Linked DNA regions of Homo sapiens. The protein of the gene in region 2 purifies or fractionates together with the protein of the main gene of each other region. This does not show direct contact. Each region holds a gene or a part of one and is shown on either strand. Other genes may lie near its edges. The genes, in order: DNAJC16, PTPRO, MAN1B1 and PDIA6.

Region 1 (7,924 bases), on a different chromosome or scaffold from region 2:
ATTATATGCAAATACTATGCTATTTTATATAGGGACTTGAGCATCCAATGACTTTGGTATTTCTGGGGATCCTGGAACCAAGACCTCATGGATATCAAGAGACAACTATCCTTGGTTTCTGAATTTTTTTTTTTGGAGGCAAAAGGCTATTACTCTTAACTTTTTTTCAAAGTGTAGAAATTAATAATTTAGAGAATAGGGTTGTATAGTGTTCCTGTTTAGCAATTACACTCATAAAGTTACTTTATGAATAATGTATCATGGGAAGGGTAGCATATCCATTATTGACTATATATACATTTTTTTAAAATTAAAACTTGTTACTTTAACATTAAATATGCTAACAGTATCTAAGGCAATTCTTTAAGCCAAAGTATTCCTAAAAGGGAGTTTCAGAGTAAACATAGGCTTTGGATCTTATCGCTAACAATTATAGAACATGAACATTAGCTCTCCTGCGTAAAATATTTTAGACAGATATATATATTGAACATAGAAACAGAGACAAATAAAAGCTAGTCATAATTTAGACTTCATCCCTGCTAAGACTGTTTAGCTTATGTTAAACCTCTATTTCTTTGTTTCACCTACCATTCCCGGGCGAGCTTCTTATAAGCCTTTTTAATATCAGCCTGACTGGCTGTTCGGCTGACCCCTAGGACTCTGTATGGGTCAAAATCCAACGCAGACAGAATTTGCAGGATCAGAACCAGAACTATCAAGAACTGCCAGGAAATGCTCAACTTTCTCACTTCCATTTCTCTTCCTTTCCAGAGCTGAAATGATTGAAGAGGCAATGAGTTTCAGTGGCAGAAACCTGGACAGTCTTGCTTTTTAGGTAAAGGTATAAGATATATAGATGAAAAACAAAACCAACAAAAGGTATTTTGCAGGAAAAGTGTCAAGCTGTTGAACTGTATCTTAAAATAAAAATCTCGCTACTGCTTTTGAATATCACAAATGAGAACTATTACAGATGAAAAGATGAGTAATAAGAATAGCAACTCTCCAGAACACTTTGACTAGAAAAGCTTTAGAAATGAATGAAAATGAATGGGATGCAGAAATAATACATAAATGAGAGAAAACCTAAATAGGATAATCAGGACGACTACCTCTCAAATACATGATTTCATTTATTCTGATAAGAATAAATAAAATAAATGGTTTAAGAATACTTCATTGAGTACATGTTAAACAAACTCATGAAACTGTAAGATTTACCATGTACAAAACTACAAAATGAGATAGTTGTGGCATTCTTGGGCATTAAATAAGTACAAACATGGACGTGAAACACTCTCAAAAAACTGTGTAGTTAAGACGCAGTATGCCTCAATTCTATTCTTTCTCACCACACCATTCAAACAAGAAAATGAGAAGCTGCTCTTTAATCATTAGTAATATGGTGTTTTTTTGTTTTTTTTTTTTGAGACGGAGTTTCACTCGTTGCCCAGGCTGGAGTGCAATGATGGGATCTCAGCTCACTGCAACCTCCCCCTCCCAGGTTCAAGCAAGTCTCCTGTCTCAGCCTCCCCAGTAGCTGGGATTACAGGCATGCGCCACCCTGCCTAGCTAATTTTTTGTATTTTTAGTAGAGACAGGGTTTCACCATGTTGGCCAGGCTGGTTTTGAACTCCTGACCTCAGGTGATCCACCCGCCTCGGCCTCCCAAAGTGTTGGGATTACAGGCGTGAGCCATCGCGCCGGCCAATATGGTCATTATTAATGGAAACCTCAGATGAGAAAAAGCGGCAAGAAAAAATTTAGTTTTACATGTGAAGAAGAATTAACGGCAAAGACCAAATAGCAGGCGTGGTCTTTAAAAGTTTCAAGCTCCATCTCTGGTGAGTACAGTGACTTAATTCATTGTGAATTTTGGAAATAATCCTGGCTGGTTAATGAACAGGGTAGTGCTGGAACTGCAGATATTTATACTCCACAATTATGATTGCTGTTATACCCTACAATGTTTTTTTTCAAGGAACACATTTATCTTGATTTCTCACAAGTTAATACAGTTTTAAGGTTCAAGTGTCTTCTGTGACACCTTACTGAAGAAGGGCAAAGCTATAACAGTGGTGGATTTCCGTAAGTGCAAGTTTAATGCCGCCTGGGAGTCCTCACAAAATTGACTAATCTGATGACCAACGTTTAAAATTGCATACGTGCTGAATAAAATCCTAAAACAAACCAGTTTCTTCTTTGTTAAGGCAACCTATTATATCCTAGAAAACACGTGAAGGCAATGTAGCTACTGGTTAAGCATATGGGTTGAAGACTAGGATCTATTCTCCACTACTTTATTACCTTGGGCAAATTATTTAAACTTACTAAGCATCAGCGTCCTTATTCATAAAATGGGAATGAATACTACCACCTTGAAGGATCATCATGTGGGGACTAAATGCATGTAAAGGGTTTACTGAGCCCAGAGTCAACAGTCAACAAATGGTCGTTAGTGCTATTATTTCTACCATGCAGTACGATCGCTGCCTTATTTAACCATGTCAGTTCCTTCCAGCTAGAGGGCCGAAGTGGCGGTGGTCTGGGAAGTTCTTTAGCTGACATGCGAGATAGACGGCGCCGACCTCGGAGCAGCAAACACCTGCCCAACAGGTAGGCTGCCAGCTCTCTGGGCAGCATATCCAGGACCAGGAAGAAGCTCCCAGAGACAAGCTCCAGGTCTAAGCCCCGCCTCGCGCTCCTGCCGGAGGTCGCAACCCTGCAGGAGACAGCCCCCTCCCCCGCCGCCCTCCGAGAGCCCAGGGCCCGGCCCTGTTGGCTCCCGGCTCCCCCCGGGGCCAGCAGTGACTGGAAACGAGAAGGAACTGAGGGGAAATCCCTGAGTCGGCCTGGCCCCGCCGCGTCCGCGGTTCCGCGCGTCACGCCGGGAAGGAGTTACCGGGAAAGTACACCGGCCCAACCGGCTGCAGCTCCGTGCTCCAGTTAGTTCGCCGGGCCGGGAGCTTCCCGTCCACACCAGCGCTCGCCTGGGCCTGGGGAGGGGAAAGAGGAGGGGACAAGCCCGAGGGGAGTCACGTGACGCTTAAAGGTCTATCGCACTGAAGGCGAGGACCGAACAGGTCGAGGGCGTCTACTGGGCGAATCTATTTTGACCCTTGCCACTCGCCGTCTAGGCGTGGACCTGGGGTGGTTGCTATAGAAACGAGGCGCGCTCTTTGGTTGCAGCCAAAAGGCTGATCGTGACCAAAGAGGCCAAAACGTGCCTCCTAGCGAGGCGAAGTCGCTATGCATGATGGGATACCAGAAGGACCTCCTCGATCCAGGAAGGTGTTTCCGCTCCTACCGGGAGATGGCCCTCGTCTAGCAACAGTTGCTAGGATGGGGACGCACTCTCTGGTCCCTATTCTCTTTAACCCTATTCGTAGAACCTTAGAGCGTCAGATTGGAAGTGACCTTAGGGATTCTTTAACTCTCCAACTCCTGCAATATTGATAGGGAGACCGAGGTCCAGAGAGGGGCAGAGATTTGCCCAAGGCCTAGAATCCAGCATTCCTTTTATTTTTGTTTACTTATCTTTTTTTTTTTTGAGAGAATCCAGGACTTTTAATCCCGTTTACCGAAAACCGAGCTCCACCCAAGAATGTACCAGTCTGTGCCTTAAGCACGGGGAAAGGGCGGTGGGGGTGGAGAGAGGGATAAGGCACAGGTAAGTGAAGGAAACTTTCTTTGAGCCAATGAGATAGATCCCTTGCGGATATAAAGAGCTTTCATATCTCCCTGTCTTGTTTTTATTTTTTTCTCTTTGCATTTATCACTATCTAACATAGTATGTCTTATTTATTGATATAGTTTATCACCTGATCCTTCCACTGGAATGTAAACTCTAAAAGCAGGGATTTTGTTTTGTTCACCTTCATGTTCTTAGTGTTTGACTACAGGCTCAATAAATATTCGTAGAAGTGAACGAATGGGGCTGAGGTTTTGGTGCTCAAGAGATTATATTCTAAGGTGGATTCTTAAGAGTGTGGCTTACAGAGTCAGGTTCGGGTTTCAATCCTGCCTGCCTCGGCCACTTAGTACCCAAGTGACCTTAAACATTCGTTTCCCTGAACCCTAGGGTCTACATCTGTAAAACCGGCGGGGGGTGGGAATACTTTCCTGGCAGGATTGTAGTTAAGGATAAGTGAAATAAGCATGAAAAGTGGCTAGCACGATGCCTGGGACTTAGCAAATGCTCAGTAAACAGAAACGATTATTTTTGAAATGTGAAAATGAACCGTTCAGAACGATGGGAGTTTACAGGACTAGATTTCTGCCGTTTTTTTTTTTTTCTGTGTGGGAGGTGTTAGGGTGGGAGGGAGGGAAGAGGGAATGGAAGACTGTGTAAGGTGGGCTTGGTTGGATCAGACACTCGAGTTTGGAACAGTCAACTGCGATCTGGGCACAAGGGCGGTGAGGGGAGCTTATGGTTTTACTTGGGGTGGAGGAGGGGGCTAAGGGGAAGCCATGCCCCGGAGGAGGTTGAATGGGCGGGACAGATCACGGCTCCACTCATGGTTTCCCTCTTGCTGGAAGTGTGACGACTCCCTCCGGATCTCTGTAAAAGCGGGGCTATAGTGAATTCTGGCGAAGGGCCCGCGGTGGACCAGGAACTGGTGCCAGAATTGCAAAAGGGCACCTGCGCCCGGAGTGGGGAGGTGATGCGGGGGCGGGGCGGGGCCCTGGGGGCGGGGCGAGTCGCGGAGGTGCCGCCTTGGGGCGGGGCGGTGACAGAAGGATGGATCCTGGGGGTGAGGATTGACTTTGGGGGCGGGGCGAGAGTGCGAACTGGAGTCTGAGGCTGAGCGGTGACGCAAGGACGATTCTGAGGGTGGAGCGAGGGGAGGGGATTGGCTCTTGGAGGCGGGGCGGTGGCACGAGGCTAGCCCTTGGGGGCGGGGCGGTGGCGCAAGATTGACCTTGGGGGCGGGGTGGGGGCGTGGGTTGAATCCTGGGGGCGGGGCGGTGGCGCGGAATGGATTCTGGGGTCGGCGCGAGGCGCTGAGGTGCGTCCTGAGGGCGGGGCGATGACGCAGAGCGAATCCTGGGGGCGGGGCGAGACCTTCTAGATGCGTCCCGGGGAGTGGGCGGTGACGCGGTGGCAGGTTCTGGGGACAGGCGGTGACCCCAGAATTGACCCTGGGGACAGGGCGAGGCGCGGAGGCGTCCTGAAGGCGAGGCGGTGACGCAAGAGCGAATCCTTGGGGCGGGGCGAGGCGTTGGAGATGCGTCCTGCGGGCGGGACGGTAACGCGGGGGCGGGGCGGTGACGTGAGGTCAGTGCGGGGATACGGGGCGGGTTCTGGGGCGGGGACGCAGTGGTGGATTCTGGAGCGGGGCGGTGACGTGGGGCGGGTTCTGGGGCGGGGCGGTGACGCGGAGCGTGTTCTGGGGCGGCGCGGTGATGGGAGGCTTGGCCCTGGGGGCGGGGCGAGGCGCAGAGGTGCGTCCTGAGGGCGGGGCGGTGACGCAAGAGCGACTCCTGGGGGCGGGGCGAGGCCTTGGAGATGCGTCCGGAGGCGGTGGGGAGCGAAGACTGACCCGGGGCCGTGACGCGGGGGCAGGCCCTGGGGCGGGGGCGGGTCCTGGGGACTGGGGCGGGCGGCCGAGGCCCGGAAGCGGACTGAGGCGGCCTGGAGTCTTAGTTGGCTACTCGCCATGGACGAAGCGGATCGGCGGCTCCTGCGGCGGTGCCGGCTGCGGCTGGTGGAAGAGCTGCAGGTGGACCAGCTCTGGGACGCCCTGCTGAGCCGCGAGCTGTTCAGGCCCCATATGATCGAGGACATCCAGGTGCGCCCCCGGCCCCCTGTCCCCGCGCTGCACGGCCGGGTCCCCACGCCCCTCGAGGAGGCGTTGTGCGGGAGCCTAGCCTTCCCTGTGGCTTCAAACCCCTCAGCGGAGCCAAAGAATCCCAAACACCTCTTAGTCGGGTGTTCGCTAAAGCGATTCCATGCCATACTCAGTCAGCGTACACTGTTAGTGCTTGTGTTTCTTGTGTAAAGGAAAAATGTGAGACACATCTTGAGAACTTTGAATAAGAAACAATTCATGAATTGGAGAACATCAGACTGAAAGAGCTTTAGTGTTGCAATGACAAAACGTCAGAGGCAAGTATTTATTGGGAAAATGTGGAAGCAAAATAAAGAAATTATTTGATTGGTTTGCAGTTACAAAATTGCCTTTTTTTTTTAAGGTCTGTTAATTGACTGCTTTTGGCTGGTCTTAAGTTTTATTTCTCTCTAACATAAGCATTTATCAGATATGACCCAAGTTAAATTTTGCTTATGTTTGCAGTTTAAGCAAGATTTAGGTCACTTAGGATACCTGATTGGTTTTGTCTGCTCAGGAATTCTTCATGGTTGGTCTCCATTTTAATTTACGTTAATACTTGCGAGGAAGGAGGCGTGTGCGTTTTTACTTTTCTAGCATAGAGGTTTCGGGAACCCACTTTGGCATCAGGCTGCCTGGCAGCGTGTTCTTGGGCCAGTCACTTACCCTCTTTGAGCCACAGTTTCTGGGCTGTGAAATGGGAATAAGAATAATACTGTCATAAGGACTAAATGAAATAACGGATGTGAAACTGTAGTGCTAGGCACAGAGCGGGGGATCAGCGTACCCTGCCCTCTTTGGCCAGCCCCTTCTGTGTTCAGTTTATGTTTTGTTAAGAGGTTTTGGAAATGAGGGGACCTGATGCAGAATGGAGAATAATGAAGTCAAACATTTGAGGTTTTGTTTAAAAGCACTTTCCCATCTTTGTCTCATTTGACCCTCATCACAGGCCTGTGAGGATGCAGGAGATATTTCCTACCATGAGGTGCAGTAGGTGTGAGTGGCTGGCTGGATATCCCTGGCCAGTGCCCTGGCCCAGGGAAAGAGTCTTTAAATAATTGAGTATCATATGAGTAATTATTCATTAATAATAAAATAAGTTTTGTGCCTTCTGTGTGGCCCCTACTGGGGAACAGTAATGGTTTGAGGCCACAGTCCTTGCCTTCAGGAATGTTCACGGGGATCACAAACTCAAATGCCCATGGAGGACCAATGGATGGGCGTCATAGTGGATAGCCTTTGCACTGCCCTCCGTCTCCAGCTGAGTATGGCCATATCAACAAATGGCCCAGTATTGCCACATCTTACACTTATTTTGAGGCAGGGTCTCACTCTTGCCCAGCCTGGAGTGCAGGGATGAGATCATGGCTCACTGCGACCTTGACCTCCTGGGCTTAAGTGGTCTTCCTGCCTCAGCCTTTAGAGCAGCTGGGACTTTAGGCACATGCCACCATGCCTGGCTAATTAAAAAAAATTTTTTTTTTGTACAGATAGGAGTCTTGCTATGTTGCCTAGATGAGTCTCAAACTCTTGGCCTCAAGTGATTCTCCTGCCTCAGTGTTGGGATTACAGGTGTGAGCCACTGTACCCGGCCCAGCTTTCACATCTTAAAAAAGAAGCTGAAAATCTTGATTCCTCTGTCAAATTCCCTGGCTTAAAATGTTAGCAACAAATTCAGAAATTTTTTAAGAACCTTGTGGGAACCACAGGTTGCCATTTTGCCATTCAGTATGGCTGAAAAACAGGCAGGTTTTGGAACCAGTTGGATCTGGGCTCTCATCCTGGCCTTGTTACATATTAGCAAGTTGTAAAAAACCACAACCAATGAGCCAAACAAACAGAAAAACCCTATGACTCAGTTTCCCTGAAATTTTTTACCCTAAAAAGTTGGGAAGTTCTAATTTAACTCTATAAAGTTATTGAGGGAGAAAAAGATGAAACAATGCATTTAACACAGTGTTGACCTCCTGGAGTGTTCAGCAAATGTGGAGAGAAACCTAAACACCACCATCTATTTGCATGTAGCCAACTGTTCTGCTAGTGAGACTTACCTTCTCAGTGGCACTGTAGGTCTGTGCTGTTCCCAACAG
Region 2 (7,541 bases):
CCAAAAAACCTAGTTATGAAGAAAAGCTAAATTAGTAAATGATAGCAATGTCTGGAACATTCAGAAAAAATATTTTAGAAGTTCATTAGTCAAGGCATTTCATATAAATAAAATATGAGATAAAATCATATAACTTAAGGCTAATGCCTTTTATTAAAGTTTTAGAGCAATTAAATGAAATGCTAGCAACAAACAGAATCCTAGTATATGACTGAATGAAGGTATAATATCTAAAAACACGACAATCTGCATTTCTAATGTAGGGCTGTTTATCCTATAGCCTGTAATTTGTGTCCAGTGATATATATCTGCATATCTGCTCACACTTTCTATGTATGTTTCCTTATTTCTTTAAGTATATAATTTTGTGTTGTAAGACATATCTTGTAATGCAATATTCTTATTTGATTTTCTTTAAGACATGTAAGAGTCAAGTACAAGTAAGATAGGTCTCTTAATAGGAATCTTTTGCGGCGGGAGAGGGGAATATAATGGGAAAAGACTCTCCAAGTAAAAGCAAAAATGACCTTCTTTAGCGTATTTCCACTGTTTTTCAAGTGCAGCAAGAGTAATAAGTCTTGGCAGTTGGAACATGCCATTCACCTGAGGGCTGTCAATCGTTCTCATTTTGAAAGACACAAAACTTATGAATTGTCAACACATCATTTAGGTGAGAAACCAGTGCTCATCAAGAGAAAAAATTAAAACAAATGCTCAAATAAATAGAAAATCAAAATGCTTCCTGGTCATTTTCTTCCAAGAGCTTAATACAGATAATCTACAGTTCATATGCTATAAAAATTGTAACATGTGAGATATGGACAACAAACTGAATGGCTATTACTTTTCCAATGGAATAGAGTCTAGAGAACAATTGCTTGAATTTTTCTTTCTATTCCATATAAAGTAAATTATTTGTCATTGAGCATCCCCCATAAATACAATTATCTAATACTGAAACTGCTGACAGCCTTGTAGGCTATTTCAGTAGTGGAAGCCAGGACTAAACACACTCAACTACATTAGAGGTTGTCCCTGGAGGACAGAATTGAGCTTCATTGGCAAGGGCACCGTAAGAGTTCCATTTGACTCCTCATTAAACCTCTCACAGGGATTCTAGCTGCTTCTCTGTGTCTGCGCTTGCTTTTCTATAGAAGAGATAGATGTGAACCACGTAGGCAAAGATACATTTCTACATATTTAGGAAAAGATCGCTTTTCTTGGTAAAAACTAAGCCTCCTATAGATTTTAAAAAGACCTTCCAGTTTCATGATCATTAACCACCTTTTTATAATTTTCAAAGGAAGTAGAGAGCTTTATTTCAATTTGTGAGAACTTATTTTTCAATGCTTGTTTTATGGCATGTCAGAGATATTATTATTTTTCTGTGTTTATTTTTTCTCCAGGAAAAGTAGCATTAGGGGAAAACAGTTGGTGATAATGATCTCAGCCTTCTTTACCTAACAATGTGGTTGTCATAATGAAATCTGGACCAATATGTAGAAGCAATTGGTGAAACATAAATTACTATATGCACTGTATGTTGCCCCTGGCTGTTTTGTTGATTTGGAGTCTTGAAAATAGCATAATAAGATTTATCATACTTTGGAAGTATTGTATTGAAAAACCAGTCAATAGCTCAAAGAAACACAAAACATGCTCTATGAATTGAAAACCCCACACTGTGGATGACACAGCATTCACATTCTTTATGAGAATCTCTTCTAGGACACTGTTATGGTTTAAGTGCAATAAAAACAAATGAAAGTATTTTATCCAGCAATAGCAATGTAAAATACTTTTCTCTAGAGAGGAAATTTTCTGTGATTATAAAATAATACTTTCAGTCTTCAGCCCATCTAACCACAATGTTACTAATAAAATAACAACAATGCCAATTACTAATGCTTTACTACTTACTGTTTACTGTTATTGTTCCTCCAAAGTGGTCCACATAATATATATATATATATATATATATATACATATATATATATATGCACAAAGACAGAAAGAGCTGAACAAATTGTGATGTATGACTAAGAGAAAAACAGAAAGACGCAGCAGAATATGATTATTTAAAAGGGAGCCTCATTGTGAAAGTTCTTTTAGCATTTACAAGATTAATTTATGATCAGAACTGCTTTAAACGCCCTACGCACATCAGGCAAGGCTATATCCATGTATACACACAGACATATGCATACACACAAATGAATATCATCATACAGACCCATAATTCACAGACACATTTTAAAATTAAATGCTACTCCAAAGAGAAATTGTTGGCATCCTGTGAGTGTGATTGTTGCCCTTGGCCTATATATATCTTATGTTCTAGAGATTAGATCACTTTACAGCCACTTCTGAGGGCGAGTGGGAATAAAATGCTGCTTCAGGAGCGTCAAAATAAAAAGAAAACATATTAAACCAAAGTTCCTATAAGTGCAATCCCAAGGATTAAATGTTCAGATAGCCCGTAAGTCTAACCCAGAGGGAGGGAGGAGCAGTTAACATTTTCTCAAAAGAAAGAAAATGTCCAAACCAATGATGAGTGGACATGAGGGACCTGAAGAGAGCATGTGATGGGAATGTGAAAACAAAAGAAGCTTCTAAAAGAAGACACCAAGGATAATATTCTCACAAAAATTCAGACCATCATTCTATATTTTCATGCATATGAATTTTGGTACATATTTCATGCATATGAAATTTGGTACATATATACATATATGTACCATGCATATACATATGCGTACATATACATATACGTATGCATACACATATGTATCTATGTACACACATACACATATGTGTACACACATATGTACATGCACACACATATGTGTACACATATGTACATGCACACACATGTGTGTACACATATGTACATGTACACATATGTGTACATGTACACATGTGTATATATACATATTCACACTTATGTAAACATATTCAATCTAAAGCTTCCTTAAGACACATACAAACAACAACCAAATGATTAGTGTTTGGCCATTGCTCATGCAGCAAAAGCTGAGTAAACACAGCTCTGGATCCTTTTCTCAGGCCACCACTCCCTAGCTGTGTGACTGACAAAGTCTATGCCTGAACACCTACATTCATGACCAGGGTGGCCTTTCCTGTCTCCTGTTGCCCAAGCATGTCTCAGGTATAAATAAGTTCCAATACTGACAGGGCACAGCAAGGGTAATTTACATGACAATAAGAAATGATTTCTATCTGAACAGTGCATACCAGAGTTGATTTCGACAGACTTATCTTTAAAAAAATACACATAACAAAAAAGGAGACAAGTAGTAGATTGGGGACCCACAGCTTGAAAGTCGTTGCTTGTGATTCTAAAACATCCCAGTAAAATTATTCACAGATAATTGTTTAAAAATATAACTGTACATACCGTTGACACTTGGACAACACAGAGAATCACGTAGTTGAAAATCCACATATAACTTTGAACTCATCAAAACCTTAACTACTAATAGCCTACTCTTGACCGGAAACCTTACTGATAACATAATAAACAGTTGATTAACACACATTTTGTGTTGTATGTATTGTATACTGTATTCTTACAATAAAGTACGCTAGAGAACAGAAAATATTATTAAGAAAACCATAAAGAGGAGAAAATACATTTATATTCATTGAGTGGAAGTGAATTATCATAAAAGTCTTTAACGTCATCCTTTTCAGGCTGAGCAGGCAGAGGAGGAGGAAGAGGGTTTGGTCTTGCTGTCTCAAGGCTGGCAAAGGTGGAAGAAAATCTGCATATAACTGGACCCAACAGTTCAAACCCGTGTTGTTCAAGGGTCATACATGTAAAATACTGTGATTTTTCCCCCTTCTATATTCAGCTTCAGGTGACCCGACACACTTTGGTATCAAAAGAGAATCTGAAATGTACAAGAACTGCGGATTTCAAATGGAAAAGGTGCATAATTGTGCTATTTGTTCCTGGGTGAGTGTGGGACGGAGACGGTGAGAGTGTTGAAATGGGATGGAGATAATGGAAGCAGTGGGGAAGGAGAGAAAATACCCTTCCTATCACACACACTCACACACTCACACTACACACTATTTCTACAGTCACAACTACCCAACTGTTATTGATCCTTTATAACTGCAATTGAGTACAGATGTAGGAAGATTGAGAGGGAACTGGGATCTGGCGCCTGGATTGCTCAAGAGAGGTCAGGGAAACCCCTCAGAACTCCTGAGACCCAGAGATTGAGGGAGGGGTTGAGGCGGAGTCTGCAATGGGGGCTGTCCAGCAGTAGCAAGCAGCGGGCCGATCCTGGTGGAGGGTTGGGAGGCTGCTGTCATTTTATGGGTCGGCAGCCAGAGTGAGAGTGTCCCTGCTGCCAGAGGACTACGGCGGGCTGGGCGCGGGGTCCCCGCCTCTCGCTCACCACACAGACCCCGCGCCTCCTCTGGCAGCCGCGGTGGTGGCGGCGGCAGAGCCTCGCCCACTCCAATCCCCACCCTCTCCATCCTTAGTCATTAAAGAACAGCAGCGCCTGGCACGTTCTTGGAGGACCCCGGGCGCAGAGGAGGAAAGGGAGCAGGCGCAGGGGGACTGGAAAGGCAGCATGCGCTCGCCAGGAGCAACCTCGGCGCCCAGGGTCTGAGGCTGCAGCCCCAGTTCGCCATTGTGAGCCGCCGCCGGGGGAGTCCGCTAGCGCAGCCGTGCCCCCGAGTCCCCGTCCGCGCAGCGATGGGGCACCTGCCCACGGGGATACACGGCGCCCGCCGCCTCCTGCCTCTGCTCTGGCTCTTTGTGCTGTTCAAGGTAGGGGAGCTCCTCCACCCCTTTTTCCCAGCGGTCCGGGCGGCAGCCGCGCTCCGGCGCCCTCGCTCTGCCGTTGGGAGCGGCGCGCCCCAGGGCACGATGGCCCAGCCGCGGGAAGCGCCTGCCGTGCAGCCTGGGCGCACGCTTTGTTGTCCTCGCGTGTGCGTGTTCCTGGTGGTCTTGAGAGGTAGGGGGCGGGGGGAAGAATAAGGGAAGTTTGCTCCCTCCGGCTTTCGCCCTTTGTGCTCTTTTATCGCTGCTGAAATCCACATCAAAGGTGGGCTTGTTGGATCGTGCTTTCTCAGGCAAAATGAGGTCACTTTCTTTTCTGGTTTCCACTGCACCCCAACGCTGCTTAACCTTTCCGCCCTCCCTCGCACAGAATGCTTTGTCTTAATTTTCCTTACTGCTGGAATTATACACTGGAGAGTGGAGGGGGACTGAGCTCCCTGGACACAAATGGACTGCCAGGGCTACGTTAGGGCAGAATTTTCTTTGAATAAGGAGTGTCAGGTAGAGAGCTTGGTAAGGATTCCTCTCCCCAACTCCTATCAACATCTTTACAATTCCTTTTAAAAAGTCTCCAGACTTTCTCCACTATATTTACAGATGATATTACCCCTAGATTTAATGGTGGAAAAATATATAATAATAAACTTTTTCGTATCTTCTTTGGAATGTGCTACCCTGAGGTTTTACTTTGAGAAAAATGAAAAGCAAAGGAGTTGCTTTTGAAAAATCAGTTTGACAACTATACTGTACATAAATTTTTTTGAAGAAATGTCAGCTAGATGTTTTCTTGGACGGCGATGTGAAGTTCTGAAGTGATTGTCTATCACTCATGTCTTCAGTGGATCTACTTTAGTTCTGTTGTTAGTCTTTTCCTCTCTCCGCAAAGCAAACTCAAGAATGTCGACAGGTGACTTGGAGCTATCCTTTCAGGACCACAGTGATACCTTCCCTAGAAATGGATGCCAGGTTAATGGATCCAAAGGTTTTCTTATTATAGAGTCACTTCTTGCTTATATGCACCATTAATTATGAATGCCTAAAAAGAATATAATGGAACAGGACCAATGGATTAAGAACAGCATTACTTTTAAATACTCCATATTTTCATTTATCTTAATGAAAAATATAAAAAAAATTCAGGGAGAAACAGCAACAGAATGCCTAAGTAAGACCTTAAAATATATTTAATATGTTTTAACATTTTTTCTTAAATTATCAATAATCATTAATTTTAAAGTATGGTAAATAATAAGCTCAGTTATATGTTTTTACTGTAGGAGGTTGTTCTTTCATACACATCATAAATGCATTAGACTTATTAGGTTGTCTATTAGTCGTTTTCTAACTATTTATCAAACTGTCACAACTATTTTACCTATGCAATAATTGTCATGAACCAAAAATTAGAAACCAAGTCACTATGCATTTTACGAGCAACAGCTAAGAGTTATATGTATGACATCTGATCCAAACCTAACGTTTAGCACAACTGCAGGTTTTTGCGTGAGTTCTTCATAATGAGATAATTCCAGAAATAAGAGAATGACTTGGTTGGGAGTGGGGGTAAGGTTTTGCAATTAAAATAAAATAAATGTGGCCATTGTTTGACTTAAAACTCGATATTGGAATGAGAAAATGCAGTTAGTGATGGTGTAATGAAAATGTTAGTGATTGTCATAGAGGTCCAGCCTGCTTCACATAATAGGTATATTCCTGAACATTGCAGGTAAATGTAAATTATGGCAAACTGCTTCCATAGTAAATACATTGGCAAAGTTTGCCATTTAAATAATAATTATTGTAGTGGGACACATAATTTTGTAAGAAAAATCATTTTCCTTTATTTTATGTGAATGTAATATTTTTGTCACCTGAATATAAACTATATCAGAGGAAAGAAGAAAAAACTGTATATATTAAATACCTTCTATGTGCTGGTTTTTTAGGCATTTTACATACGTTATTTCATTTAATCCTATTTTGCTGCAGTTGACAAGAGTTGTTCAAAAAAAATGGTAAATTGGGCACACAGTGTAATATCTTACATTTAGAGGATAGTATATTACATGGTGCGTTGGGCACATGGTATAATCTCTTTATAATTTGGAGATATTTTTGAATTAAAGGTCCTGATTAAGTGCCAGTAAAACAGATCTACTCAAGCAGGTTGTGACTGGAGGATGAGAAAAAATTCATTATTAAATACCAAACTGCTAACTGTATCTCAATAATAAAATCCAAAATGTTCCACGTGTGCCGAGTCAGAAATGAAACATTCTCTCAACTCTCCCTTGCCAAAATAATTTCCATAGTTTTCACTATAGTTAATACATTTTTCACTACTCCATATGTGTATCCTTTATATAAGAGTGAAAATTCTGAAGGAAAATAAGACAGAGAAATTCAAGTATGAGGCTTAATTTACAGCTTTACATTTTCCACAACTCAAAAATAAGCAGCTGGATATCAGTGGTGGAAAAGTAGGAAAGTTTGAATGTGTATGAATGGCTATAATCAGTTCCATTGAGGGAGACTAAATGTGACTGGCCAAGAAGGTCTTTGTGCCATCGTTCCTTATCCATGGAGCAGTGATGAGCACATATAATCGGGCATCTCAGACTGTCTAAATCATTCACTGCACATTATGAAGCTAATATCTGCATAATTTATCTTGCCTAAACACAATGTTGGTTATGAAAATTTTTATTTTTATATCAAT
Region 3 (7,025 bases), on a different chromosome or scaffold from region 2:
AGAGCCAGGGCCAGTGAGGGCTGCTGTGCAGGAGTGGCCTGAGACAAGCGCTGTCCGCCGTGAGAGATGGGCTCCGAAGAAACGGGCCCAGAGGCCCTGAACTCAAGCGCGTGGTGAGAGGCGTGGACATGTGCATGTGAGGGGTCCTCACGGCCAGGAGGAGAATTTGAGGGCCACTGTGCTCTAGTTAGCGTTGGCATGAATGCAAGGACGCTTTACTTCCAGAGCAAAAGAGGATTTGACCTCAGCTTGTCAAAAGTGCCACGTTTGTACTCCCAGCATGTAAGCCATCTGTGGTTGTAAGAGGCCTTTTGCTGATCCTGGGACAGATTCACCACAGGGCCCCAAGAGAACGCTCGGGCCCAGCCACAGTTAGGAGGTTGCGCGGCAAACCCTCTACACAACCTCATAGCTGTTCCTGATGGCCATTGGACAGAACTCGATGGGGAGTTTGAGTGGCCATGCGTCTCGTGTGTAGGGACAGCCCCCGTCTGTGTGGCCATCCTGGCATCTTGGGGCCACCTCACTGTCACTAGTGCTCCTGTTTGGATGAAAGATTCTCTACTCCTCCACCATAGAGGCCCCCCGCCTCCGGCCTCTGCAGAGGGATTTCTCACGATTCTCCAAGCTCTGGTCTCTGACCTCAGGCCAGCCTTGACCCTGGAGCAGTGCTGTGGTCTTGGCTCTCAGGCACGGGAGCTCAGGACTGAACTGTGTGTTTCCTGCCACTCAGCAGCCTGCACCTCAGGATGATGGGGCCGCTTTGGGTGCAGGGCTGTGCCTTGGCCGTGGGTATGGAGCGTGGGGGTGGGAAACATGGAGCCACAAATGTTTGACGGCAGCTGACACCCTTCCTTCTCCCCCGAAGCTGGAGGGGAGCGGTGATCGAGCCTGAGCAGGGCACCGAGCTCCCTTCAAGAAGAGCAGAAGTGCCCACCAAGCCTCCCCTGCCACCGGCCAGGACACAGGGCACACCAGGTGAGGCCACACCTGCACCCCTTCCTCCCCGGGCGCTCAGGGGCTGGTGGCTGATGGGTGCAGGCTTCGTCTCAGCCATGGTGGGTGGCGCCCCCGCCCTGGTGTGCACCTTGCCCTTCAGCATCCCCCTGTTGTCTGAGTCCTCACAGGCTCTGCAACCTTGGTGACACCATGTGGCTCTTGGCCTGCTGTCCCTGAGCACATGGCTGCAGAAGAAGGTGTGTCTGAGAGGTTTGTGTCTGGGCCAGGCTGCCCCACGGGATCCCTGGAGACTGCTGCCCGTGCTGTGTCCCCTGTCTCGGCCTGGCCAGTCCCAGGCAGCTCTGGGGGCCACTTCATTCTCAGCACCGTTTGTTGGGGGCCTCCCAGGTGCGGGCCTTCGGCCAAGCTCAGTGCATGACCTGAGGCCTCTTTCAACCTCATGACACCCTCTGACACGATAAGCCACTCACCCTCCCGTTCTCCAGACTGAAAAGCAGGGCTGAGGACAGCCACCCCCAGAGTCGTTTGCTTGTCTGTGGGGGCTCATGGCAGGTCGCTGAGTCTGGAGCCCTGCTCTCATCATGCCCCCCAGGTGTCTCTGAGGTGGGGAGGGAGCCCAGAGCCAGGACTCCCAGCCCCGGGCCTGTGAGGGATGTGTAGCAATCTCTGCGGCATCAATGAGGGCAGAGGCAGAGGCAGAGGCATAGACATGCCATGAGCACAAGGAGGCCTCAGAACCTTTCCTGAGAGGACGTGTGGTTTGGTGCCGTTACACACGTGTCAATCCACACATTAGTCAATGTTGGCCGGGCGTGGTGGCTCACACTTGTAATCCCAGCACTTTGGGAGGCTGAGGTAGAAGGATCTCTTGAGTCCAGGAGTTCAAGACCAGCCTGGACAACACAGTGAGGCCCCATCTCTACAAAAAAAAAAGAAATTTATATATATGTGTATATTTGAGACAGAGTCTTGCTTTGTCACTTCACTGCAACGTCTGCCTTCTGGGTTCAAGCAAGTCTCCTGCCTCAGCCTCCCTAGTAGCTGGGATTATAGGCACCCGCCACCACACCTGGCTAATTTTTGTATTTTTAGTAGAGACGGGGTTTCGCGATGTTGGCGAGGCTGGTCTCAAACTTCTGACCTCAGGTGATCTGCCCACCTCGGCCTCCCAGAGTACTGGGATTACAGGCGGGAGCCACCGTGCCCAGCCAAAAAAATTTAAAAAAAGGGAACGAAGGGACTGTAGCGCGTGTGCACAGTGCGATTCCCGTGGAGCACCTGAAGCCCACGTGGCAGAAGGAGCGTGTTTGAGTCGAGGATGTTCATCGCGAGGTCTGCACCCGTCCGTGTTTCACATTCTGAGTTGGCACCACACTCACCCACGTCTCCACAGGCTGTGCTCACTGTGCTGTCCCAGCGCCCTTGGGGCAGCCACCCTTGTCCCTTTGGCCAGAGGCCACCGAGGCCCAAGGAGGGTGTGCCTGCCCAGGCGCCAGGTGGAGGTGCATGGGCCCCAGTCAGGTGGTCGGGTGACAGGTGCCATCCTGTGCAGTCTCCAGAGGTCTCAGGCCCTTGGCAGGCTGTGTTCTCCCTGGGGGCTGCTGCAGCCTCTGTGGCCCTGGCCTTTGCTGTGCCCACCACCGCCCTTCCCGTCGTCCCAAACCCACCGTCATCTTTGCCCCATGGGGGTCACAGCAGTGCTCTGCCTGAGGGTGTCCATCTGTGCCGACGCCAGGACCACGTCCGCCATGGCCTGTGCTCTCTCCCCCCTACTAGTGCATCTGAACTATCGCCAGAAGGGCGTGATTGACGTCTTCCTGCATGCATGGAAAGGATACCGCAAGTTTGCATGGGGCCATGACGAGCTGAAGCCTGTGTCCAGGTCCTTCAGTGAGTGGTTTGGCCTCGGTCTCACACTGATCGACGCGCTGGACACCATGTGGATCTTGGGTCTGAGGAAAGGTACCTGGTGCTTTCTGGGGAGGGGCTGAGCCCTCCGTGTGGGCCTCGTGTGCTGAGGCAGAGTGTGGGTTGCACACGGGGTGAAAGCTGCTGTTTGCATCTGACCATGGGTTTTCCCTTCTCCTGGGTGCGGGAGTGGACGTGTTGGCTGTGGTCAGTTCCTGTTCTTGTCCAGCCACCCAAGGCACACACAGGGCCGCTGTCCCCAGACCTCTGCAGGAGTTGAGTGTGGACTCTTTGGGGGACGTCCAAGGGACATTCCCAGGCTGTGCTTCTCTTGCAGCTGGGGGTGGTGGGATGAGTGACTGTGGGGCCCCGCTGGTCCCAGATCTCAGCAGCATCCTTCATAGACCAGCACATCCACTTTGAATTGGGAGTATGTGTCTTCGGTTATTTAAGCGATAATTTAAACATTTGCCTAATTTTTTGAATAGGTTGAAGACCACCAGTAAACGACGTGTGTAATTTTTTTGGGTCGTAGCCTTTGGTTGTGACCCATTGGTGGCCATAGCAACTGCACTGCTGACTCCGTTTTATTAACAAATGTTGACGACTTCAAGATTTACCCCCTTGAGATAGGAGGTGATATTGAAGCCCTGCAGGGGAACGATAACGCCCCAGACATGGGTTTGGTTTTTTGTTTTTGTTTTTTTGTTTTTGAGATGGAGTCTTTCACTGTCTCCTGGGCTGGAGTGCAATGGCGCAATCTCGGCTCATTGCAACCTTGGCCTCCTGGTTTCAAACGTGGGTTTTTTGGAGACAGAGTCTAGTGGTGTGGCCCAGGCTGGAGTGCAGTGGCACGATCTCAGTTCACTGCAGCCTTCGCCTCCCGGGTTCAAGCTATTCTCATGCCTCACCCTCCCCAGTAGTTGGGACCACAGGCATGCGCCACCATACTCAGCTAATTTTTGTGTTTTTAGTAGAGATGGGGTTTTCCCATGTTGTCCAGGCTGGTCTCTAACTCCTGGGCTCAAGCAATCCACTTGCCTCAGCCTCCCAAAGTGCTGGGATTACAGGCATGAGCCACCACGCCCAGCCAAATGTATTTTGAAGATGGATAGATAATAGGAAAACGTTGGAGCCATCCATTTGTCTCTGCATCCTTTACTGTTTTATGTCATAGAATTTGAGGAAGCCAGGAAGTGGGTGTCGAAGAAGTTACACTTTGAAAAGGACGTGGACGTCAACCTGTTTGAGAGCACGATCCGCATCCTGGGGGGGCTCCTGAGTGCCTACCACCTGTCTGGGGACAGCCTCTTCCTGAGGAAAGCTGTAAGTGTCTTGGGGTGTCCTGCAGGGAGATGGTGGACTCGCATTCAAGCAGTTACCCCTTTAGTGGACTTGTGGGGACGTGACTGTCTTCCTGTTTCCTCTTCAAATGCACTGGAGTCTGTTTCTGAGCTCATATTCGTGAGCTGATGAAGCCACTTTGATCACCACTGGCCTTGTAGAGACATTCACTCAGTGCAGAGTGATGCCCGTTTCCTTGCTGCTGTGTTGACCCCAGAGAGCCTTCAGTGTCTCCACTGAACTGCATGAAAGGGTGTAGACGAGGCCTCTGGGTGACCTGAACGTTGGTTCTCTACTCTGCTCATATACCAGGAGGATTTTGGAAATCGGCTAATGCCTGCCTTCAGAACACCATCCAAGATTCCTTACTCGGATGTGAACATCGGTACTGGAGTTGCCCACCCGCCACGGTGGACCTCCGACAGCACTGTGGCCGAGGTGACCAGCATTCAGCTGGAGTTCCGGGAGCTCTCCCGTCTCACAGGGGATAAGAAGTTTCAGGTAAGGGGGCAGGCTTTCTGGCTGGATGCGCCTCCCCTGGAGCTACCTTTTGCTCATCACAGCAGGTACTGTGTGTGTGTGTGTATGTGCATGTGTGTTTTCAGGTTTTTTACTGTGATAAAACACACAAAACGCACCACCTTAACCATTTCCAGGCGTGGTCGGTGGTGTTACATTCACGCTGTTGCAGGCGTGCAGGTCGGTGGTGTTACACACATTCACACTGTTGCAGGCGTGCAGGTCGGTGGTGTTACACACATTTGGGCTGTTGCAGGCGTACAGGTCAGTGGTGTTACACACATGCTGTTGCAGGAGTACAGGTCGGTGGTGTTACACACATTCATGCTGTTGCAGGCGTGCAGGTTGGTGCTGTTACACACATGCTGTTGCAGGAGTACAGGTCGGTGGTGTTACATGCTGTTGCAGGCGTGCAGGTCGGTGGTGTTACATTCACGCTGTTGCAGGCGTGCAGGTCGGTGCTGTTACACACATTCCTGCTGTTGCAGGAGTACAGGTCGGTGGTGTTACACGTGCTGTTGCAGGTGTGCAGGTCGGTGGTGGTACACACATTCATGCTGTTGCAGGAGTATAGGTCGGTGGTGTTACACACATTCACTGTTGCAGGCGTGCAGGTCGGTGGTGTTACACATTCACGCTGTTGCAGGCGTGCAGGTCGGTGGTGTTACATTCACGCTGTTGCAGACGTGCAGGTCAGTGCTGTTACACACGCTGTTGCAGGCGTGCAGGTTGGTGGTGTTACATTCACACTGTTGCAGGCGTGCAGGTCGGTGGTGTTACACACATTCATTCTGTTGCAGGCGTGCAGGTCAGTGTTACACACATTCACGCTGTTGCAGGCGTGCAGGTCGGTGGTGTTACACACATTCACGCTGTTGCAGATGTGCAGGTCGGTGCTGTTACATTCACGCTGTTGCAAGCGTGCAGGTCGGTGGTGTTACATTCACGCTGTTGCTGGCGTGCAGGTCGGTGGTGTTACACACATTCACACTGTTGCAGACATGCAGGTCGGTGCTGTTACACACATTCATGCTGTTGCAGGCGTGCAGGTCGGTGGTGTTACATTCACACTTGCAGGCGTGCAGGTCGGTGGTGTTACACACATTCATGCTGTTGCAGGCGTGCAGGTCGGTGGTGTTACACACATTCACACTGTTGCAGGCGTGCAGGTCGGTGGTGTTACATTCATGCTGTTGCAGGCGTGCAGGTCAGTGGTGTTACACACATTCACGCTGTTGCAGGCATGCAGGTCGGTGGTGTTACACACATTCACGCTTTTGCAGGCGTGCAGGTCGGTGGTCTTACATTCATACTGTTGCAGGCGTGCAGGTCGGTGGTGTTACATTCACACTGTTGCAGGCGTGCAGGTTGGTGTTACACACATTCACACTTGCAGGCGTGCAGGTCGGTGGTGTTACACACATGCTGTTGCAGGCGTGCAGGTCGGTGGTGTTACATTCACACTGTTGCAGGCGTGCAGGTCGGTGGTACACACATTCACACTGTTGCAGGCGTGCAGGTCGGTGGTGTTACACACATTCATGGTGTTGCAGGCGTGCAGGTCGGTGTTACACACATGCTGTTGCAGGCGTGCAGGTCGGTGGTACATTCATGCTGTTGCAGGCGTGCAGGTCGGTGGTGTTACACATTTTCACGCTGTTGCAGACGTGCAGGTCAGTGGTGTTACATTCATGCTGTTGCAGGCGTGCAGGTCGGTGGTGTTACATTCACGCTGGTGCAGGCATGCAGGTCGGTGGTGTTACACACAACGCTGTTGCAGGCGTGCAGGTCAGTGGTACACACATTCACGCTATTGCAGGCGTGCAGGCCGGTGGTGTTACATTCACGCTGTTGCAGGCGTGCAGGTTGGTGTTACACACATTCACACTTGCAGGCGTGCGGGTCGGTGGTGTTACACACATTCATGCTGTTGCAGGCGTGCAGGTCGGTGTTACACACATTCACACTTGCAGGCGTGCAGGTCGGTGGTGTTACACACATTCACACTGTTGCAGGCGTGCAGGTCCGTGGTGTTACACACATGCTGTTGCAGGCGTGCAGGTCGGTGGTGTTACATTCACACTGTTGCAGGTGTGCAGGTTGGTGTTACACACATTCACACTGTTGCAGGCTTGCAGGTCGGTGGTGTTACACACATTCACACTTGCAGGCGTGCAGGTCAGTGGTGTTACACACATTCATGCTGTTGCAGGCATGCAGGTCGGTAGTGTTACACATTCATGCTGTTGCAGGCGTGCAGGTCGGTGGTGTTGCACATTCATGCTGTTGCAGGC
Region 4 (5,920 bases), on a different chromosome or scaffold from region 2:
CTTTATCTTTACCTTTAAAAAACTTTGTCTATTTAAATCAGGAGCTGCAGGCAGAAATTCTTATCTGGAAGTTCTTCTGAAGTTGGCAGACAAATACAAAAAGAAAATGTGGGGGTAAGTTACTGAGCTTACTGTCTGAGTGTCATCTGAACAGCTGATTATAGGCTTTCTTGAGAGTGGTTCCCCCGTGTTTTTGTAAGCTGTGTTCTATGTTTGCTCTGCTATATGTTTTTTTTTTTTTTCCCTCCTGCCTCAGCCTCCCAAGTAGCTGGGATTATAGGCGCCCGCCACCACACCCAGCTAATTTTTGTATTTTTAGTAGGGTCAGGGTTTCACCATGTTGTCTAGGCTGGTCTCAAAACTCCTGACCTCAAGTGATCCACCTGCCTCCACCTCCCAAAGTCCTGGGATTACAGGTGTAAGCCACCGCACCCGGCCTGCTCTGCTATATGTTTTTATTCAGGATGTGAAAACTTTATCATGGGAGGAAAAGAAGGAATGAAGGGCTGTCAGCACAGCATGCATTTTTCTCATAGGAATCATGTTTTACATGGTGATTGGAGTGCCAGGTTAGCAGGCAGACACATAAGGAGTAGTGCACCTGAATTCTACTGTGAACTTGAAGGCTGGGTGAGAAAGGGGAAATAGAATTGTTTCCTTCTCCTCTTCTGAGTTAAGGACTGGATCTAGGCACATTTTCAAAACAGTGTATCTCTTTCCTATTTTATCCTTTTTTTTTTTTTTTGAGACAGAGTCTCACTCTCTTGCCCAGGGTGGAGTGCAGTGGCACAATCTCGGCTTACTGCAACCTCCGCCTCCCGGGTTCAAAAGATCCTCCTGCCTTAGCCTCCTGCGTAGCTGGGACTACAGGCGCACGCCACCATGCCCGGCTAATTTTTGTGATTTTAGTAGAGATGGGGTTTGCACCATATTGGTCAGGCTGGTCTCGAACTCCTGACCTCAGGTGATCCACCTATCTTGGCCTCCCAAAGTGCTGGGATCACAGGCGTGAGCCACCGTGCCCAGCCTCCTTCCTATTTATCTTTTTGCTTCTTGTCCTCAGTATCCATTGCTTTCCCCAGGTACCTAGCGCCCCCTGTTGTCCCTCTCTCGATGACCTTGCTCCTCCTCCATTAGTCCAGCAAATGTTTATTAGATGCCTACAGAACGCGAGAACATGCTTAATAACCCAAATGATATTGGTGGGATTTCAGGTAAAAAGGGAAAATCCATATAGAAACTCATCTTTTGTTTTTATTTGTCATTCTACGAAATATCTGAAGCGTGATCTTTTGTTCTCTAAGATCTTCTAGTTAGATCGTAAGCAATTTAAAAGACATATTTGCCCTAAAAACCAGTCTGGTTTTCTAGGTGGCTGTGGACAGAAGCTGGAGCCCAGTCTGAACTTGAGACCGCGTTGGGGATTGGAGGGTTTGGGTACCCCGCCATGGCCGCCATCAATGCACGCAAGATGAAATTTGCTCTGCTAAAAGGCTCCTTCAGTGAGCAAGGCATCAACGAGTTTCTCAGGTAATTTGTTTTCTTAGGTTGTTTGTTGTTTTGTCTGTTTGTTTGGTTCTGTTGTAGGTTTATATTTGGAACTAGGTATATATAAGCCAGGTAATAAATGGAATTTAAAATGCAAACTAATTCCAGAGAATTGAATGTTTATACATTAGAGTTTTTAAATTGTCTCCCTGTTCGTTCTTTTTTCCATGGAATACTCTGCTTGCGGGATGAGGAGAAAGCATTGCTACCCTCGGGCCGCCCTGTGTGCCATTCTGTGCATCTGGCCCTGGGCTCTTTCTCATTCTCATAAAGGTCTCATATGGGCTAGAGGCAGCCCTGTCTGTCCATCCTCACCCTCATATGCATTGTAATCTTGACCTTGGGGAAATGTGGTTTCCATTTCTGGGCACTTGGCTTTGGAATGTAGTTATTTATTTGAAAATGGGCGTACTTAAGTTACTCCAACAATGTGCAAACAACATGATAGGTTCTAAAACCAATATACAGAGCTGTCTACTCTGCTCTGCTATTCAGCTCACCTAATCATCTTTTAGGCAATACAGGGCATTGACCTAAAGAGGTTTTATTTCCCATTCTTGCTTTCTTCCGCGTTCATTTCTTAGCTGCTGTATAAGAGATGTTCAGCACACAAAAGGTAGTTGAGAGGCTTGTGTTGAATAATGAATAGGAAGAACAGTACATGAAAGCCTGCAGTGCTCTTGCTGCCAGTCTTCCTACTTGACACAGAAGTTTGTGTGCTGTGTGGAGACGTGTGTGTGTGCTGTGTGGAGAGTAGGGGCTCCAAAGTCAGGTGCCTCAGTCACAGCTCTGCCTTGAGTAGTGAAGTGGGAGGCATGGAGGAAGCCCTGTGAGATCAGCTGCTTCAGCCTCTGCCGGCGGGGGGCAGACTGTGGCTCCTTCCCTCCCAGCTCTCTCTCATTGTAGTTGGTTAATATGGTTAATGGGTGTTTTCTTTCCCCCCCACCCCCGAGACAGAGTCTTGCTGTGTCGTCCGGGCTGGCACGATCTCGGCTCACTGCAACCTCCACCTCCCGGGTTCAAGTGATTCTCCTGCCTCAGCCTCCTGAGTAGCTGGGATTACAGGCGCCTGCCACCACGCCCAGCTAATTTTTGTATTTTTAGTAGAGATGGGTTTTCACCAGGTTGGCCAGGCGGGTCTCAAACCCCTGACCTCAAGTGATCCACCCACCTCAGCCTCCCAAAATGCTGGGATTACAGGTGTGAGCCACCACGCCTGGCCAAGGGGGTGTTTTCATTAAGTTTGTGGGGCTGGGTGCGGTGGCTCACGCCTGTAATTCCAACACTTTGGGAGTCTGAGGCAGGCGGATCACTTGAGGCCAGGAGTTCGAGACCAGGCTGGCCACCACGGTGAGACCTTATGTCTACTAAAAATACAAAAAATAGGCCAGGTGTGGTGTTGTAGGCCTGCAGTCCTAGCTACTAGGGAGGCTGAGGCACACCCAGGAGGTGGACGTTGCAGTGAGCTGAGATCACACCACTGCACTCCAGCCTGGGCAAAAGAGTGTGACTTGGTCTCAAAGAAAAAGAAGTTTGTGGACTGCTTAAGTTTGTGATTGTCATAGAGTAGTATTTATTAAATCATGAAGTCAGAATGTGAATATATCTCCTGTAATTTTTTTTTCTAATAATAGGTTTGCTTATTCTAGCCCATTGGTGCCATAGATTGTTAGTCTAGCTCTATTATTCTATGAGTTGTTTGGTGAACTCTAAATATTTGTGCCCACAGTATTTCTGGCTCTGGTTTCCCAACAGCCAGATTACACCAGGTCTGGTATGTTTCAAGTACTGATGTTTATGCACATACGCACCCCGCTCTCTGCCAGCGCACTGGAACCAGTCGCCTCACTTCTGATATGCTCCCTCTGTACAGGTTCACAGCAGTCTTAGAAAGCTCGCAGGCAGCCCATGTTCTAGATCAACTTTGATAATTATTTATGTATTTAATTTGTATTTCAGCAAATGCTCTGCTATTTTTAAAAGCTTACTGATAGCAACTGACTTTATCTGATGCAGGGGGCTTAGTTGGGAATGTTGAATCTGGTTGTAATGTTGTCCGTGATTAAAAAGATAATGTCCTCAAGGTGTTTCTGAGGAATGTAGTGCAGCAAGAGAGAAGAAATGCCTCTGCATAAACAAAGTAGGCAGACTGTTATTTTTAAAGTTGTTTATTCTTCTGCACCAGCAGTCCATTGTAAATGTGTGTGTGTGTTTTGGTCATTTTTCCCTAAGGGAGCTCTCTTTTGGGCGTGGCTCCACGGCACCTGTAGGAGGCGGGGCTTTCCCTACCATCGTTGAGAGAGAGCCTTGGGACGGCAGGGATGGCGAGGTGAGTGCCCGGGAGGGAAGCTGTGCGGGCAGCAGTCCTGGTTTACTCTCTTGAGCCTGTGCATCTCTGCACCTGGAGTCAAGTCCTTCCCATCAGACCTCAGCCCTGGTGCACCCGTGGGCCTTTTAAGAGGTTCTTCTCTGAAGACCCTTCATCTTCCTTATCACAAGTTTAAGTGCTGCATGGCATTTGATACTCTTGACAGCCAAGATACATTTCAGTAGTAAGGTTGCTTTCCTGATTATTACCTTAAAGTGAACATTTAACCTGGAATTCATTTACTTTATCTTAGAAAAATAGAAAATGATAGCTTTGAAATTAGCACTTATTTCTGTACTGTTGTGTCCCACCCTCCTCAAAAGGACACGTTCAAGTGGCTTCCAGTGTTAAAATGGTGAGTGATGTGATGTTGAAATGTTTCACCTGAGTTCTGAGCTTTTCCATCCGTATAATCATAGGTACGAAGGTCAGGGTAGGAGTCAGACTGAGGAGAACCTGGATTGTAGCAGGAGTAGCTCCAGAGAGTCGCTCTTCCATAAAATGAGATGTTGACCTTCCAGGGTGTCCCCTTCTGCAGATCTAACAGTGGCTTTCTGTCGTCTCCCAGCTTCCCGTGGAGGATGACATTGACCTCAGTGATGTGGAGCTTGATGACTTAGGGAAAGATGAGTTGTGAGAGCCACAACAGAGGCTTCAGACCATTTTCTTTTCTTGGGAGCCAGTGGATTTTTCCAGCAGTGAAGGGACATTCTCTACACTCAGATGACTCTACCAGTGGCCTTTTAACCAAGAAGTAGTACTTGATTGGTCATTTGAAAACACTGCAACAGTGAACTTTTGCATCTCAAGAAAACATTGAAAAATTCTATGAATTGTTGTAGCCGGTGAATTGAGTCGTATTCTGTCACATAATATTTTGAAGAAAACTTGGCTGTCGAAACATTTTTCTCTCTGACTGCTGCTTGAATGTTCTTGGAGGCTGTTTCTTATGTATGGGTTTTTTTTAATGTGATCCCTTCATTTGAATATTAATGGCTTTTTCCATTAAAGAATAAAATATTTTGGACAATGCCGATAAATGTATGAAGTTAGTATCCACATCATAAATTCAGAGTGATGTTTAGCAGTAAATCAATATTTTGAAGTGATACACAGATGTCTTTCCTCCCCACAAACTTTTTTAAACAAAAAACAAGACCTCTTTTCTTTAGATGGTGCCACCTATGCCCACCACAACAGAGATTTTACATGGAAACCGGGCTCAGTGAGAACTGATTTCCTGCCCAATATTTGTCTTTGGGCTGTCTCTAGTGACTAATTATTAAGGAATCTAGCTGGTTATACAGTTCAAGGCTTTCTATGTTGTTAATGAACCTCAAAATAGCCGTTAAGACATGAAATACAGCAGCAGGTTACCAATGCGAACAGGTAGTTCGCATTTATGTAAAACATTCAGAAAATGAAGTTTTGAATTTGTTGGAACATTCAAAGGACTTGAGAGCATTTTATTGTAACTTAAAAAAATAAATACAACTGTCACTAACTTTTGTGAGCAATTTCTCTGAAAAAGATCTTAGTTCTGTAAGACATTTGAACCATTCTCTGGCTAAAGGAAAGAGGTGTCTGTAATAATCTGCACGAACATGAGACAGAGGTGCCAGCTGGCCTTTCTAGTCAAGAAGACTAAGGTCAATATGGAAGTAGACATAAGGAAAATAGTCTTGGTTATTGAGTTGCAGTCCCGGGATCTCCACAGATGCCTACAAAAGAAGACATGGTAATGCTCTAAGTGCATAAACTAGTTTCCTGTCTTATCCTTTTAGTTTTGAGGAAGCTCGCCAGGCACTGAGCGTACGTTCTGCTCTGCGTAGCTGTGGTCCACCCCTCCAACCCTCTCCTTGCTGTGCTTTAATGTGTATGACATGTAGATTTTCATAACAGGCTGACAGATAGTTTTGCTTTGTTTTGTTTTTGAGACAGTTTCTGTCACCCAGGCTGGACTCAGCTCACTGCCTGCCTCAGACTCCCAAGTAGCTGGGATTA

What was found.
Region 1: the proteins of PTPRO (region 2) and DNAJC16 purify together in Homo sapiens (affinity purification with mass spectrometry, with the first as the bait; 2 studies listed by BioGRID). This does not show direct contact.
Region 3: the proteins of PTPRO (region 2) and MAN1B1 purify together in Homo sapiens (affinity purification with mass spectrometry, with the first as the bait; 2 studies listed by BioGRID). This does not show direct contact.
Region 4: the proteins of PTPRO (region 2) and PDIA6 purify together in Homo sapiens (affinity purification with mass spectrometry, with the first as the bait; 2 studies listed by BioGRID). This does not show direct contact.

What each region holds. Positions count from the first base shown.
Region 1 is NC_000001.11:15,521,940-15,529,863, reverse strand, and holds the start of DNAJC16 (dnaJ homolog subfamily C member 16 isoform 1 precursor), read right to left. Parts: upstream 3,017-7,924; 5' UTR 2,906-3,016; intron 777-2,905; 5' UTR 759-776; coding exon 592-758; intron 1-591. Other genes in the region: CASP9 (caspase-9), read left to right, coding at 5,664-5,795. UniProt on the Homo sapiens protein: Plays an important role in regulating the size of autophagosomes during the formation process.
Region 2 is NC_000012.12:15,317,992-15,325,532, forward strand, and holds the start of PTPRO (receptor-type tyrosine-protein phosphatase O isoform a precursor), read left to right. Parts: upstream 1-4,516; 5' UTR 4,517-4,735; coding exon 4,736-4,810; exon of another isoform or gene 4,811-5,858; intron 5,859-7,541.
Region 3 is NC_000009.12:137,096,960-137,103,984, forward strand, and holds part of MAN1B1 (endoplasmic reticulum mannosyl-oligosaccharide 1,2-alpha-mannosidase), read left to right. Parts: intron 1-868; coding exon 869-978; intron 979-2,736; coding exon 2,737-2,922; intron 2,923-4,045; coding exon 4,046-4,194; intron 4,195-4,524; coding exon 4,525-4,713; intron 4,714-4,719; exon of another isoform or gene 4,720-4,797; coding exon of another isoform or gene 4,798-7,025. Other genes in the region: uncharacterized protein LOC124902313, read left to right, coding at 4,798-5,780, 5,817-7,025. UniProt on the Homo sapiens protein: Involved in glycoprotein quality control targeting of misfolded glycoproteins for degradation.
Region 4 is NC_000002.12:10,782,891-10,788,810, reverse strand, and holds the end of PDIA6 (protein disulfide-isomerase A6 isoform d precursor), read left to right. Parts: intron 1-41; coding exon 42-114; intron 115-1,371; coding exon 1,372-1,530; intron 1,531-3,700; exon of another isoform or gene 3,701-3,780; coding exon 3,781-3,877; exon of another isoform or gene 3,878-4,484; coding exon 4,485-4,553; 3' UTR 4,554-5,420; downstream 5,421-5,920. UniProt on the Homo sapiens protein: May function as a chaperone that inhibits aggregation of misfolded proteins. Negatively regulates the unfolded protein response (UPR) through binding to UPR sensors such as ERN1, which in turn inactivates ERN1 signaling.